2 separate regions of the Homo sapiens genome follow, and region 1 is linked to region 2. Evidence: fine-mapped expression QTL. A gene starts in region 2. The other region holds a variant in brackets. All regions are shown on one strand. Distances are from middle to middle.

What was found. PIP is the estimated chance that this variant, and not a neighbour inherited with it, causes the effect. A credible set is the group of variants that fine-mapping cannot tell apart.
Region 1: its variant is the best candidate, but not a certain one, in a credible set for the expression of MAPRE1 in whole blood (INTERVAL, PIP 0.52).

The regions. Positions count from the first base shown.
Region 1 is chr20:32,849,378-32,852,141 of GRCh38, reverse strand. It overlaps MAPRE1 (microtubule associated protein RP/EB family member 1), which reads right to left. Exons shown (of 7, transcript NM_012325.3): 7 at 1,737-2,764. Among named protein-coding and RNA genes, the nearest start is that of EFCAB8, 8.2 kb to the left of the region's middle. The variant A/G (reference allele first, on the strand shown) is at 1,239.
Region 2 is chr20:32,818,389-32,821,152 of GRCh38, reverse strand. It overlaps MAPRE1 (microtubule associated protein RP/EB family member 1), which reads right to left and starts at 1,199. Exons shown (of 7, transcript NM_012325.3): 1 at 1,125-1,199. RefSeq lists enhancers at 1-150, 151-820 and a silencer at 893-1,482.

The DNA of each region.
Region 1 (2,764 bases), 31 kb before region 2:
GGACTCAAGTCTGATGTTCCCCTTGCCAGAATTATTATTTAAAATTGCAGACATGTAGATAAGGCCCAAATTAAAATGCAGGTTTTCAACCTCCAAACTCAGAATCTCTGGTGATGAATTTTTATAAATACATTATGTCAAACAAGTTCCCCATGTGATTCTGAAGCCCATCAGTTTGAGAATCATCAGCATGAACAATGATCCAAATTGAGCCAGAGAACCCATTTGTTTACCTATCCTTCATGAAACACAGAACCTGCCAAGCAAACCAAGCAGCAAAGACTGTATGTGCTTCAAATTCAAGAGCCAGGTCAATGCACTTGGTCAGATACCCACAGTTTTGGCTTCTCTCTTTACCAAGGTAACTTCTCAATTGACAGTAGCCAACAGTATCTTCACAAACTCCTTGCACTCCTGGAAGGTATCTTCTTGTAGATGACCAATACATATGGTGTCAAATTCCTTCTGAAGGTATTTAACACTTTAAGGGAGGTATCATACCATTAACTATGGGTGCAACCCTTGTCAAGATCATCAGGTTGGGTTTATAGAGCATCCATAACCATGACTCTACATATCCTACAACACACTATCTCTGCCCATTTAACTTTATTTCTGACAGAAAATGGCAGCAAGTCTCCTTTTGAACTCATTTCTAATAGCATATAATTTTATAAGGGAGAAAAAAATGGTGACAATTTTAGATTATTTTATAGATTAAGATCATGTTAACTGACTTTGAAACATACTTTCAGGGCTGGGTGCAGTGGCTCACACCTGTAATCCCAGCACTTTAGGAGGTCAAGGTGGGAGGATCACTTGAGCCCAGGAGTTCAAGACAAGCCTGGGCAACATAAGGGGACCCCATCTCTACAAAAAATACAAAGTTTAGCTGGGCATGGTGGTGCATGCCTGTAGTCCCCACTACTCACGAGGCTGAGGTGGGAGGATCGCTTGAACCCAAGAGGGCAAGGCTGCAGTGAGCCAAGATCATGCCACTGCACTCCAGACTGGGCAACAGAGGGAGACCCTGTCTCAAAAAAGAAAGGAAGAAAGAATCACACCTTCAGAAAAAAAAAAAAAAAAAATCTCCCCACAGTCATCTGCCAAGCACTGTCCTGCTATATTTCTCAGAAGGAAATGCCCTGAAAAGGCTTCACAGCAGATAGGCCAGGCCTTGGACTTCCGAGAGGAAAAACCTCTTACAGCAACGAGAATTTTAAAAAGCAGGAGGCTGT[A/G]CAATATAATGTGAATGAAGAAAAAAGAAGTCAGCTTAGAAATAAGCACATCTGACCGAGCACGGTGGCTTACGCCTGTAATCCCAGCACTTTGGGAGGCTGAGGTGGGTGGACCACGAGGTCAGGAGTTCAAGATCAGCCTGGCCAAGATGGTGAAACCCCATCTCTACTAAAAATACACAAAAATTAGCCGGGCGTGGTGGTGGGTGCCTATAATCCCAGCTACTTGGGAGGCTGAGGCAGAGAACTGTTTGAACCTGGGAGGCAGAGGTTGCAGTGAGCCGAGATCATGCCACTGCACTCCAGCCTGGGCGACAGACCAAGACTCCATCTCAAAAAAAAAAAAAAAAAAAAGAAGAAGAAGAAGAAATAAGCACATCTGAAAAATCAGTAAAGGATGTGAAAAGATCAGTCCTCACTGAAGAAAGAAGCACTGGTTTCCCATCACTTGAACCTAACAGCATATACCCAGGGCAAGACAAATTTCAGAAGACATGATACTCTTGAAATACAGAATTTTATTTAGAAACTGTTTAAAGTAGAAAAAAACCCTGTCAAGAAAGACCAGGTGGAAAATGGGTTCCCAATAAAATGGAATTTTAGGGCAACAAAAGTCTAAAAGGCCACAAAAGAGAAATAGCACCACTGTCATTTGAACAATGGCTAGTTACTTGCATTTTTTGGCATTGTTAATCACTGAATCTGGGTTTTCCTCTGAATTCCACACAGAGCATGCACTACACAACATTTTTATCATAAAATACTTGCTTTCTACACACATTTCAGGACAAGCTACCACCAGAAACAAATCAATACAAATACATCAGGGGCTGAACAATCTCAGTAGTGGGTGAGACACATTTTGCAGAATCCTGCCAAACAAAGGAACTGAATAGGCTGTGGGCAAAGCAAATGAGGGAGAGTTAAGGAATGAAGTATTTTAAATATTAATAATTAATTCAGACACGGTACTGTATTTTCCGCAAAAGAAAATTAACATTTAGTAACACACTAATGAATTTTATCTCCAAAGAGATTAGTGCACTGGCAAAGTATTCGGATTACAGTGGAGAGCTGTGAACAGCAGATACCGAAAACACCCCAGCCTGGCAGATCCCAAGGTAACGATGGCCTTCACTGACCACTCCCTTTGCCAGAGGTCCAGAAAGAACTTGCAGCATGATCACCTGCCTGCTGCACTTCCAACTCTAAGCAGCAAACTTCAAGGAGCCAAAGAGGAGTCCCCAGTGGGCAAGGGGAGCAGAGAAGAGAAACGTGGTAAATGTAAACCTAAAAGACAGTAAAATGGGATACAATCCCCATTCAAATCCCAGAGATGTGGGCAAGTCCCCAAAAGTAGTTGTTAGATTAAAAAACTGGGCACACCTCACTTCCCCAAAAAATATAATACATAGAAATTTCGGGGATAACTGGAAAAATAGAGAAATGCTCAATGAAAACCAAGCTCTTCAACTGTAACATCTCAGGGCTGAAACACATCCTCTATTATCCAGGCAACGATGCCT
Region 2 (2,764 bases):
TCCCGACTACTCGGGAGGCTGAGGCACGAGAATCGCTTGAACCCGGGAGGCGGAGGTTGCAGTGAGCGATGGTGCCACTGCACGCCTGGGCAACAGAATAAAACTCTGTCTCAAAAAAAAAAAAAAAAGGAAGAAGAGAATCTCTCTTAAAGACAGTGTTAGTATTAAAAGACACAAAGCCACATGGAGCACTTAACAGTGCTTGACACAAAACAAGTGCCCAACTAACAAAGAGCTGCTATTATCATTACTACTGTTAGAGACATGCCATCGGAGAAGCGGATGCCCGGCCTAGCATAACCTCCCTCAATGGGCCCCAGGATCCTCATCCCCAAAATGGGGCAGAGGTCAAGCTCTGCCCTGCAGCATCCGAGGGCAACTGTGAAGTAGGGACTGAACTAGCACTGTTGATACCATCCCGTTATACTGTCCTCCTGCTCATCATAATGTGGATTCCTGGAGAGCAAATCTTTGTTCCCGGGAAAACAGCCAGGGTTTAGCACGGTGCCCAACACCTAGTGGGCATTCAATAAACACACACTGAAGAAAGGAGGGAGTCCAAGAGCTGGCTTACTTTCTGCCATACATCGCGCTAAGAGTTTAATGTGGGTAGTATTACTGTCCCCGTTTTACAGATGAGGAAGCTGAGATCCACAGCGGTTAAAGCACCTGTCCAAGGTCACACCGCACGGAACCCAACCCAGGTCTGACTCCACCACCCGATCTCTCGGCCCTCAGGCAACACGGCCTCCCACAATGTGCGTCCCCAGAGCTCCCAGGACGGCCCACCTCGCCCACACCCTCCCAGGGCCCAACCACCCTGGGACCTCCAGTCGCTGCAGCGCAGGGACCACACCTCAGCGGCGGCCCAGAAACCCCCACCCCGCGTAGCAGCAGCCCACTTCCGGCCCGAGACCCCGCCCCCTGAGCAGAGCGCAGCGCGCGCCCCCAGGCCCAGCCCGCGCGCGCCGGGTGACGGCCCCGCCCTTCCCCCACCCGGCTCGAACAGCACCGCCGTGTGGAACGGCCCTGGCGCTGCCCGTAGGGCCTGCCCGCGCACGCCCGGCCTTGGCCCACGCGGCCGCCCCCCCAGCCGCACCCCCCGGGCCCGCTAGCCGGCTCACCGGCTCTCGGCAGAACCGCGTCCACTGCCCGCAACCGGCTCCGGTTCCGTCTTCGTCTCGTTCAAACCGCCAGACCCCGCCCGCCCGCCCGCGCGATGACCTCACACGCACCCCCTCGTTACGCGCCGACGTAAAGGCTCGCCATCCTCCGCCGGCTCCTTTTATAGAGAGGGTCTCAGCCGCGCGCCGGGGGCGGAGCTCGGCCCCTGATCCACAGAACGGTAGCCGAGGGGCGGGGCCCCGACCGCCGGGGCGACTGCGGCACGTGGTCGGTCGCAGCCAATGAGGTCCCGCCTCGGCCCGGTGTGACTCAGTTACAAAATCCCTATGGCAGTAACCAAAAAGAAAATTGCTTTTACAATGAATTTTTTTTTTTTTTTGCTTAGAGATGTATGGAGGTCTCGCTGTGTTGCCCAGGGTGGTCTCGAACTCTTGGCCTCAAGCGATCCTCCCGCCTTAGCCTCCCAAAGCGCTGGGATAACAGGCGTGAGCCACCGCTCCCAGGCTTACAATTAATTTCTGTAAGAATGGGTTATTGAATCATAAAGATACCTAATAGACACTTTGGGGAAACGCTTAGAAGTCAACTTTCTGGGCCGGGTGCAGTGGCTCACGCCTTTAATCCCAGCACTTTGGGAGGCCCAGGTGGGAGGATCACCTGAGGTCAGGAGTTTGAGACCAGCCTGGCCAACATAGTGAAACCCCATCTCTACTAAAAATACAAAAATTAGCCTGGCGTGGTGGTGGGCGCCTGTAATTCCAGCTACTTGGGAAGCTGAGGCAGGAGAATCACTTGAACCCAGGAGACGGAGGTGGCAGTGAGGCGAGACTGCACCACTGCACTCCAGTCTGGGCGACAGAGCAAGACTCTGTCTCAAAAAAAAAAAAAAAAAGTCACGTTCTGTGACGCCCCCGCCCCCCCATCTGCAATATCATGCGGCATATTTTCTTCTTAGTACCATAAGAAGGCATCTTGTGCCTTTACTGTCTGTCTCCTGTAAAGTCCACAGGAGCAAGGACCTCCTGAGTCCTGTTCCGGGTTGTTTCCCAATGGCTGTACATACATTCTCTCTTGCCCACTCCCTCTTTTTTTTTTTTTTTTTTTTAAGAGATGGGGTCTTGCCATGTTGCCCAGGCTGGGCTGGTCTCCTGGGCTCGAGAGATCCACCCGCATCGGCCTCCCAAAGTGCTGGGATTACAGGCGTGAGCCACCACACCTGGCCCTTACATTCTCAAGAGAGCCTTGGCTGAAGGAGGAACTGGGCTGGGCGTGGTGGCTCACACCTGTAATCCCAACACTTTGGGAGGCCAAGGCGGATGAATTACCTGAGGTCAGGAGTTGGAAACCAGCCTGTCCAACATGGCGAAACCCCATCTCTACTAAAAATGCAAAACTTAGCCGGGCATGGTGGTGGGCGCCTGTAATCCCAGCTACTTGGGAGGCTGAGGCAGGAGAATCACTTGAACCTGGGAGGCAGAGGTTGCAGTCAGACTTCGTCTAAAAAAGAAAAAAAGAGGAACTGCACCACTTTACAGCAGAAAGAAACTGAGGGACAAAGAGGCCAATTGACTCACTCAGTGTCAGAGGTAGATCCAGATTTCAAGCTGACTTTTTTTGTCTGGGTATCATTTATTCAAGT